Regions from separate parts of the Homo sapiens genome. Here region 2 is linked to region 1. The links come from fine-mapping of genetic effects on gene expression. A gene starts in region 1. The other region holds a variant in brackets. All regions are shown on one strand. Distances are between the middles of the regions. Region 1 holds the start of KCNQ5 (potassium voltage-gated channel subfamily Q member 5). Region 2 has its middle 37 kb from the start of KCNQ5.

Region 1 (5,381 bases):
AACAACAAAGCTTAATCGCAAACACCTTATTTTCTCCAAAGTTAATTCCCGTCTTTTGAGGGAAGTTAGCAGGTAGCAAATAAAGCAAGGTGCAAACAGAGGCTCTTGTAGGAGAGGTTGGCACAGACTCACTTGGCTTTTTCTTTCTGGGCATTGAAAGGTAGGAAGGTTAGAACTTCAGCTAAGCCAGTCTTTCCCAATGGTTGCAGTCAGAGATTGATACAAAACCCCAGAACTGTTTGCTATTTTATCCATTCTCTGCTGGAGATGCAGATTGATTGGTGGAAGGAACAGTGAACTAGGAAGCCAGGTTGTTGGATTCCTAGTAACTCTCACACTACCCGCGAAAACTTGAGCAGGCCCTCTTTTTCTGGGCTGTGTATCCAAATGGCGGTTACTCTAGAAGACATAAGTGAAAGGTCCTTCTCAGCAGCTCAAAACGGCTACCAGTAACCGGGTCTTTTTTATTTTTTAATTAAGCTTAAATGGCATTTGCTTAATCAATAATACAGTTTCACTAGAACTAATGCTGCATCCCCAGAAAAGCATCACTTAGAAATTAAACAGCTGGCTGTCTTCCAGGGAAACGTGTCCCTGTGTCCTGCCTTCCTGAGACTTCTTGCCTGCACGCGGGGCCCAGCCGCGCCAGAGAGATGGAAGTGACTTTACCTACCCAGCGAAAGTAGCAGTCTGCAACAAGGAAAACAGCTAAGTTAAGAGGAAGTGGTTTTCATTTTACTGCTTGCAGAAAGGCCAAGATTTTGACGTTTAAAGCGGGCACACGAGTCATTTTAAGTCTCTAGATCTTTCACCCTGAAAGTCCCTGCACAGAAACTCCATAGGGAGTCTAAATATAGCAACAGCACCCCCTCCCGCCCCCTCCGCCTTCAGTCAGGGTCCCGCGCAGCTCTAGGATTGGAGAGCTTACTCCAGGGCGCTCTCTGCATCTGCCTCGAATAGCACCGCACGGAGCAACCTCTCTCGCACCTCCACAGTGCGTGGGTGTGAAGTGTATTAGGGGAAAGCTAGAGAGTGACTCTGGGTGATGGTGCTCGGCTCACAGTCACATGGCGTCGCCGCCAGCTGCACAGAGCTCCCAGCTAGCTTCTGCTGCCCAGAGGCTTGGGGGGAAGGAGGGAGGGAAGCAGGCTCCTGCTGGTGACCAGGAGCAGGCGAGAGGGCTTCACACAAATAATAGTGATAATAAAGAGTAAAAGCAAAGCATTTAAATCGAGCTATTGCAGAAGACAGAAATCAGCTGCCGCGGGCGTGGGTGTGTGTACAGGGTGGGGGAGAATTGGGAAAGTATTTATCTCGGAGGGGCGGAGACAGCTGCAAGAAGACTTTTGTCTTAGCATTGTTTTAGCCTTAGGAAAGGAAAAGGCCCGAAGGAATCCACCTTGCAACTATCTGCTATGTCTTTGTGGTGGAAGCTTAGTTTTGCCTTCAATTTAATTTGATGATTTTCTTTCATATTTGGGGAAGAGCCACTCTGTTGGAAGAAGTCCCCGAGCCTGGCACCCTTCAGTTTTCCCTATGCTGAATGTGAGATTTAAACTGCCTTTTCTTTGTAATACACTGTTTCTGAAGGCCAGAGGCTGCGGCCAGTGGCACCGTGGCCTCTCTCTCCGCCAAGGGCGCATAGGCTTTGGGCCACCCGGGTGCCAGGGGTGGTGGAAGACCCAGTCAGTTGTTCCTTGCAACAGGTCTCTAAGCTTGTATGTTACAACATAAGGTGGGTGGGGTCGGAACCCCGAAAAGCCGGCGTCCTGGACACCCCATCCTCCAGGTGTTCTTTCCCAGACACTGGGTCCTCGCCGCCGCTGCTGAACTTCTCAATCATATGACTTTCTCGGACTTAAATGGAAATTTCTTGACGGAGGGAACTGGGTTTGTTCTCCCAGGCTTCGCGCTGCAGTCAGGCAGAGCCCCGGGGCAGCTCGCTCACCGCGGAGGAGCCACTTTGGAGTTTTACGCCCTTTCCACACCCCACCCATGGACTGGAAAGGATGTTCAGTTACTCGCGAGCTTGTCTGATACTGGGATGGAAAGTCACAGTCCGCAGGCTGGAGTGAGGCGCGGGAAGATGCCTGGTCCTTGCCTCGCGGACTTGGCAGCCGCGTCCTGCGGGTCTGTCCACTGAACTGCTGAGGACTCGCCCGTGTGCGGGGACCCGAGTGCCACTTCCCGGAGCGTTACCTTGCGCTCCAGCCTCCAGGCTAGATAATACCTGGAAGGCAGGGCAGGGCTGTTCCCGCTCTCACCCCTTGCGGAAGGATGGCAGGATCCGGCGCAGCGACGTAGCAGCGGGAGGGCACAGCGACCTGCATCTCCAGTTTCTCCTCAGGACACAAGGCTGACTTCACCTTCCGGACAGCTGCAAAGCCCCTGCCAGAACCAAACCGAACTCGCGCCTCGGAGAGGGGCTTCTGGGGCCGTTTCGCTGCAGGGCGTGGGGAGTGGAGAGAGGGAAGGGGAAGCCTGGGGCTGGGTGTGCGCGCGTGGGAGCGCGCCTCGGAGCGCCCCGCACTCCCCCACTCTATCCCCGGGGGCAGTTTGGGAAGGAGGGAGTGGTAGTCGCGGGAATGAGGGAGCAAGAGAAACCCTCTCAAAGTGACGCCCCAAACAGGTCCGGATTTAGAATTCGAAGCTAAAGGCTGTTAGAAATTGGGACTCCTCGGCCTCCTCTGCAGCCCCTCCTTTCCCGCCCCGAAGCCCGGGCGGTTTGCTGGCTGCCTGCTTCCCCGCCCCCGGCTCAGAGGTCTCTGGCTGGCGGGCGCCCCGTCGGCCGCCGGCTTCCTCCTTGAAACCCGCCGGCGCACATGAGGCCGCTGCCCCCGCCGCAGGCGCTGGCGGCCCCCTCGCGGTGCCCGTGGTGATGCCATGCCCCGCCACCACGCGGGAGGAGAGGAGGGCGGCGCCGCCGGGCTCTGGGTGAAGAGCGGCGCAGCGGCGGCGGCGGCGGGCGGGGGGCGCTTGGGCAGCGGCATGAAGGATGTGGAGTCCGGCCGGGGCAGGGTGCTGCTGAACTCGGCAGCCGCCAGGGGCGACGGCCTGCTACTGCTGGGCACCCGCGCGGCCACGCTCGGTGGCGGCGGCGGTGGCCTGAGGGAGAGCCGCCGGGGCAAGCAGGGGGCCCGGATGAGCCTGCTGGGGAAGCCGCTCTCTTACACGAGTAGCCAGAGCTGCCGGCGCAACGTCAAGTACCGGCGGGTGCAGAACTACCTGTACAACGTGCTGGAGAGACCCCGCGGCTGGGCGTTCATCTACCACGCTTTCGTGTGAGTACCCGCGCCCCCTGCTATGCCCGCTGCAGGGGACCACTGTCCCTGGCCCCCTGGGGCGTGCTCCGCGCTCGCGCCCTTGGGCCCCCGCGCGCGTGCACACGTGGTGGCTTTTATTTCTTCGCACGTGTTCGTGGTCTTCCTTCTGGAGCCTCTCCCCTCCCCCAGCCCCACTTCTCTCATCTCTACAGCTTGAACCTTTTCCCCGAGGACACCCAATGAACTGCCCGGTAGCTTCAGGCTCCCGGGGCGAGAGCCAGGCAGACGCGGGACTTAGGCTGCGCGGATAATTGGGAGCAATTAGGTCCCAAGATACGTAAACTTCAACCGAACGGGGCGCCCGGGAGCTAGGGAATGCAAAGGGAGGACAGGCGCCCGTGTGAGGCTTGAGAGTATACTGGAGAGGTTAGGAGGTGATGGCGGGGTAGGACGGGGAGAAGTGAGGGGGCATCGAGGGCTAGGTCCTCAGTCCTAGGGGCGGAGTAGGGGAAGCTGCTACTTGGAGAGAGCTGCTAGGTTTTAAGCGCGCCCGGAAACACGCCTCGCCACCACCCAGCCACCACCAACGGAAAATCTGTCAGTGCATGTAGCCCTTCCTGCCACGGAGAAGGTGGCCAAGGTCTAGAGGAGGCCAGCAGGCCAGGCGAAGCAACGCTCCCGCGCTGCAGGGGGCGGGGAGGCAGCGGGGAACCTGGGGCGCAGGAACGCGGGCGGAGGTGCGATAGCAGAAGCGCAAATGGGTCGCCTCTGACAGAGATCGGGCAGTGGGTTAAGTCCCCGTTTGTGGCGCGGAGTCAAAGAGTGTGTGTGTGTGTGTGTGTGTGTGTGTGTGTGTGTAGTAAGCCTTCTCCATCTAGCAGAGAATGCTTAATGAGAAAATGATTGGAAGCAAATGTTTATTTTTCCCTTAGGCATTTAAAACCTTTCAGTGGCTTTAAAGTTTACTACTGTTTTTCCCACAAAGTCCATTCATTCAGTCTCCTATTAGAGTTACGTTTATCTGGGCATTTTAAGGTTGTTTTTATAATGTTACCTCGTGTCTAATTCTTTTTTTCTTCCTCTTCTCCTTTTGCTTCCTCTTTTTTTAGTATTATTATTTCTGCTTCTTTTTTGTTAAGATGAAATATAAAGACATCAACCTTAGAAGACCAGTAGAGAAAGTTGCAGATACTCGCTGATACATTCCTTGTTTCCTAGTAAAATAAGTTTTGAGCACACGGACTAGGTTTCTTTTAGAAATAAGTTATGTCATCCATACATAGCTCTCTCCTGGGATGCAGAATTAGCATCAACACCAGAAACGTGTTTTGAAATAACATGGAAGAAGGGCTGGTTTTGTAACTAGGTGAACCTGGAATTCAACCACATAGGAGTCAGGAAATTGGTGGAGTCTACAATCTGTGGGGCTCTGGTGTCTGGAAAATTTTACAGTCCCAGATTGACGTGAACATGTAGCATTAGGCAGAATATTCCAGCCAACTTTCCGTTTTACAATGCACACAAGGAGAACGGTTGTGTTGCATCATCATTACATCAAAAAGTATAACTTTTATGTAAAATTCACATTTATTTAAATGTGGTTAGGATAATGATAGAGAAATGCAACTGACACTTTTCTCGTTAATCTCCTCTGACCTGATATGTAATTAAACATATTACTTAATAAGCCTGGTAAATTATTTTGACCTGTCAGAATATACTAAAATAATTTAGCAATTATAATGCTCAATTTGGTAGCAAATATATATACTGTATAGGTTATGATTTTTTCTTTACAACAGTATGCTCAAAACATTTCTAGCCTTTCTTTTTTTTATATTATGCATTGTATATTCAGAGAGAGTTAAAGAAAGCCTTGGTTGGTGCACATACTTTGCATCTCCTAACTTGTTCTTGAACATGAATGAGAACTTGCAACACAACATTTTCTTTTCCATGTGTTGGTGTTAACAGGTTTGTATGGGCTTACAGAATTTTAAAACATTAATAAATGATTTTTCCAAAGGTTCAAGGTTGGATACTTCTCTGTCTACCAGGCTTTATCAGTCTAGCAGTATCTTTAGTAGTAGACAGGAAATAAATTGTGTACTTAATAGA
Region 2 (5,381 bases), 37 kb before region 1:
GGTTTGTTTTTTCCTTGTAAATTTGTTTAAGTTATTTATAGACTCTGGATATAGCCCTTTGTCAGATGGATAGATTGCAAACATTTTCTCCCATTCTGTAGCTTGCCTGTTCACTCTGATGATAGTTTCTTTTGCTGTGCAGGAGCTCTCTAGTTTAATTGGATCCCATTTGTCAATTTTGCCTTTTGTTGCCATTGCTTTTGGTGTTTTAGTCATGAAGTCTTTGCCCATGCCTATGTCTTGAATGGTATTGCCTAGGTTTTCTTCTAGGATTTTTATGGTTTTAGGTTTCACATTTAAGTCTTTAATCCATCTTGAGTTAATTTTTGTGTAAGATATAAGGAGGGGATCCAGTTTCAGTTTTCTGCATATGGCTAGCCAGTTTTCCCAACACCATTTATTAAATAGGGAATCCTTTCCCCATTTCTTGTTTTTGTCAGGTTTGTCAAAGTTCAGATGGTTGTATACATGTGGTGTTATTTCTGAGGCCTCTGTTCTGGTCTATGTATCTGTTTTAGTACCAGTACCATGCTGTTTTGGTTACTGTAGCCTTGTAATATAATTTGAAGTCAGGTAGCATGAGGCCTCCAGATTTGCTCTTTTCACTTAGGACTGTCTTAGCTATATGGGCTCTTTTTTGGTTCCACATGAAATTTAAAGTAGTTTTTTCTAATTCTGTGAAGAACATCAATGGTAGCTTGATGGGGATAGCATTGAATCTATAAATTACTTTGGGCAGTATGGCCATTTTCACGATATTGATTCTTCCTATCCATGAGCATGGAATGTTTTTCCATTTGTTTGTGTCTTCTCTTATTTCCTTGGGCAGTGGTTTGTAGTTCTGCTTGAAGAGGTCCTTCACATCCCTTGTAAGTTGTATTCCTAGGTATTTTATTCTCTTTGTAGCAATTGTGAATGGGATTTCACTCATGATTTGGCTCTCCATTTGTCTGTTATTGGTGTATAGGAATGCCTGTGCTTTTTGCACATTGATTTTGTATCCTGAGATTTTGCTGAAGTTGCTTATCTGCTTAAGGAGTTTTGTGCTGAGATGATGGGGTTTTCTAAATATACAACCATGTCATCTGCAAACAGAGACAATTTGACTTCCTCTTTTCCTATTTGAATACCCTTTATTTCTTTTCTCTTGCCTGATTTCCCTGGTCAGAACATCCAATACTGTATTAAATAGGAGTGGTGAGAGAGGGCATCCCTGTCCTGTGCCGGTTTTCAAAGGGAATGCTTCCAGCTTTTGCCCATTCAGTATGATATTGGCTGTGGGTTTGTCATAAATAGCTCTTATTATTTTGAGATACGTTCCATCAATACCTAGTTTATTGAGAGTTTTTAGCATGAAGCGGTGTTGAATTTTATCAAAGGCCTTTTCTGCATCTATTGAGATAATCATGTGGTTTTTGTCACTGATTCTGTTTATGTGTTGGATTACGTTTATTCATTTGAATATGTTGAACCAGCTTTGCATCCCAGGGATGAAGCCAACTTGATCATTGAGGATAAGATTTTTTATGTGATAGCTAAGTACTATTTAAATGGAGAGAAAAGACTGCTTGTGATTACCTTATTTTGAAGAATAAGGAAACTAGTATCCAAGTATGCAACTCTATGACTCCTTAACCAGCAAACACCATTTGGACACATGGACTGTAACTCTTCCATAGACTGATACTGATGATAGAACTATATCCCTTTTATTACTTCCTTAGTTAGTTTTTCTTTTCCTGATAAAGCATTTATCATTCTAAGACCTGGTGTGTGTTAGGATGGCTGTCAGTTATGACCAAGCTCATGTGTCTATTCTGGTTCTAATCTGTCCCCTTACTCTAATACTTAAGATTCAAGGAAGAATGTGGCTACTCCATTTTTCAGCAGATGCTGTTCCAATTCTCACCTGACCTGGTGTACGGTTCTTTGGATCACTTGCAAGGGGCTTCACTTGCAAGAAGCTTGGTAATTTCAACGAGATTTTCTCATTTGCTATAATAAGCTTGTTGACATGCTTTGTGGCAATAATTATATAGTTTAATCCTTAATAGTCTGATTTATTACCTAAAATATGTAAGTATAATGCCCAAAGAGGACTGCCCCAGTCTTTATCTCTTAAACTGTCTGCTGGTAACTCTTATTCTGTAACAATCTCTTGAGCTAGTTTTTCTTTGCATTCCAGAGAATTATGCCTTTCTTTTACCCTGTCTACAGACCATTCTCATCTGGCAGATAATTAATATATTAAAGAATCTTATTCCTTGTAGTGTTTTAAAATCATCACTTCCTAACAACTACACAAGCCATTTCTTCAATTTTGGAAATGAAGCAGACTATGTGGTAATGCAAAAGGTGTTTAATTATGTATAAAACAGATCATAGTTGCAAAATGATAAAGAAACTAGAGGCATTATAGTAAAATACTGCAAGGAAAAAACATGATTAAAAGTGCTGCAAGCTAATAACAAATATATTACAAAAATACTTAGATTGACAGAACTCTTTAAAGAAAATATCAGTCATTGTTTCTAAAAGCCAACTGATTACAGTTGATCAAAAGCTTTGACACCAACCAGTGCTAGGTATGAAGAAACAATTTTTTCTCAGAGAGCCTTTTTTAGTGCTTTATCAAGTATAATCTGTCTAATATCTATCTGCAGAAAAGTGGCGAGGCATTCCCAAGACTTTCTTGGATTCGTGCTTTGATGCCTAAAATTTAAACTTCCCTGGGTGCGACCATAACATATTTTTTCATCTGTTGATTATAGTGATTATAACTTTAGGACAGCATAACTGTTTTTATTTCCTTTTCAATTCAATTTTCTGATTGTAATATTCACTCTATTTTGTTGACTAAACTAGATCAGATTAATTTTCATGGCAAAAGAAGTGGTACAGTGTATGAAAATATTTTCTGTTTTGTTATGTTATAAAGCACTACCCAACCCAATATAATCTCATAAAGTTTAGTATTAAAAAGGCACCTCTAATCAACTTTTCAAAATAATGAATTAATGTGCCTAAAAATATAAAGAATGCTTCCAGCATGAACATGGCCATGAAAGTCACCATTTTCCCCTTTTCCTATGGGAAAATACAGAAAAGCGACAAGAACAAAACAAAACCTGAAATCTACATTTTTAGTGAAACTAGGAAACAAATATATTCCAGACTCAAATCACATTTAAGGGAGTCTAAAGAAAAAAAAATTACATTACTACTGGCAGCGTATAAGAGGTCTAGTTCTTCCATAACCTTACCAACATTTGGTATGGTCAATGATTTCAATTTGATTCATTCAAATAGATGTGTAGTTCTATTTTGTTATA[A/C]TCTTAATCTATATTGTGCTAATGCAGTGATGCCGAACACGTTTTCATATATTTATTTGCCATTTAGCTATATTTGTTGAAGTATCTATAAAAATATTCTATTTCAAAATTGAGTTGTTTTTCTCAGTATCGTGTATTGTTAATTTAAATTTTGCTAATCTGGTGGTAGGCAGTGGGGGGTAGTACTGTTATCTCATTAAGACTATAAGTAATATTTCCTTAACTGTAAAAAAGTTAAAAACATTTTTAAAGGTTTATTGGCCTTTCTGACACCTTTTTGGGCAAATGCCTATTCATGTTATTTTGCCCATTTTTTTCTGTTAAATTTTCTCTTTTTATTGATTTGTAGGCATTCATTGCATGTTATGAATATGAGTCTTTGTTAGCAAATGTCTTCTACTCTGGCTTGTCTTTTAGTAATTTTATAGCACCATTGGATGAACAAAATTCTTACTTACTTTTTTAAAAAGATTTTTTTGTAGAGTCAGGATCTCGCTATGTTGTCCAGCCTGTTCTCAAACTCCTGGTTTCAAGTGATTCTCCTGCCTCAGCCTCCCAAAGCACTGAGATTACAGTGAGCCACCACACCTGGCCCAAAATTCTTACTTCTAACATAAGCATGTTTATTGATCTTTTCCTTTGTGGTTAGTGCTTTTTATGTTTTATTTCAGAAATATTTTTTTTCCCAAATATCATGAATATATTTCCCAATGAGGTTTGCGGCAGTGCACAGTGGTTCACGCCTGTCATCCCAGCACTTTGGGAGGCCAAGGCGGGTGGATCACGAGGTCAAGAGATTGAGACCATCCCGGCCAACATGGTGAAACCCCATCTCTACTAAAAATACAAAAATTAGCTGGGTGTGGTGGCGCATGCCTGTAGTCCCAGCTACTCGGGAGGCTAAGGCAGGAGAAGCTCTTGAACCCAGGAGGCAGAGGTTGCAGTGAGCCGAGATCACACTACTGCACTCCAGCCTGGGTGACAGATTGAGAATCTGTCTCAAAAAAGAAAAAAAAAAAAAGTCCTTTTCCACTGCTCTACACTGCTTAATTCAATGCTCACAAATGCATGACTGTTTCTAGGTGCCCTCTGCTGTCCCACTGGGCAGCCTTAGTTATTCTATATTGTGTTAATGTTACTAAGTCTTGATATCTGGTAAGGATATATGCTAACTTGTCATATTTTACAAACTAATATGTAATATGTGTATCATTTTGCTTTTTATTCCTTCATGCATCTCACATCTTCCATGTAGGGTCATTTTATTCTTATTACGTAAATCCTTTAGGGTTACATTTTAGTGCGGTTTTGAAGGTGGTGAACACTCTTATTTTTCTGTGTATCTGAAGATGCCTTTATTTTACCTTCACTTTGGATAATAACTTCACTGGCTACCTATCTTAAAACTTCGAAGCTAGTATTCTACTGACTCCTAGCATCCTTAGTTGGCATTATGAAGTTATCAAACTGCTGTTCTTTTGGAGGCAGTCCATCTTTATTTTTCTGTTGTATTTAACATGTTTTCTTTGCTTAGGCATTTTGCATTTTTGCTATTGTGCATCTACATGTTTGTATATTTTTTAATTCAAATTTTATTGAGAGAATTATTGATTCAAATGTAGTTATAAGAAATAATACAGGCCAGGCGCAGTGGCTCATGCCTGTAATCCCAGCACTTTGGGAGGCCAAGGCAGACATTATCACAAGGTCAAGAAATCAAGACCATCTTGGCCAACATGGTGAAACCCCGTCTCTACTAAAAATACAAAAATTAGCTGGGCATGGTGGCACACGTCTGTAGTCCGGCTACTTAGGAGGCTGAGGCAGCAGAATCACTTGAACCTGGGAGATGGAGGTTGCAGTGAGCTGAGATCGCGCCACTGCACTCTAGCCTGGCAACAGAGCGAGACTCTGTCTCAAAAAATAAACAAATAAATAAATAAATAAATAAAAGAAAGAAAGAAATAATGCAGAGACTGGGTGCAGTGGTGCCAACACTTTGGGAGGCTGAGGTGGGAGGCTGTCTTGAGCCCAGGAGTTCAAGACTGA

The links. PIP is the estimated chance that this variant, and not a neighbour inherited with it, causes the effect.
Region 2: its variant is fine-mapped to the expression of KCNQ5 in whole blood (TOPMed, PIP above 0.99).

Annotation. Positions count from the first base shown.
Region 1 is chr6:72,619,307-72,624,687 of GRCh38, forward strand. It overlaps KCNQ5 (potassium voltage-gated channel subfamily Q member 5), which reads left to right and starts at 2,758. Exons shown (of 14, transcript NM_019842.4): 1 at 2,758-3,281. The coding sequence starts at 2,884. KCNQ5-DT (KCNQ5 divergent transcript) reads right to left here and starts at 3,373. Exons shown (of 3, transcript NR_186827.1): 1 at 3,226-3,373. RefSeq lists enhancers at 1,143-1,332, 3,443-4,394 and silencers at 2,753-3,012, 4,043-4,092.
Region 2 is chr6:72,582,031-72,587,411 of GRCh38, forward strand. No RefSeq gene overlaps it. Among named protein-coding and RNA genes, the nearest start is that of KCNQ5, 37 kb to the right of the region's middle. The variant A/C (reference allele first, on the strand shown) is at 3,333.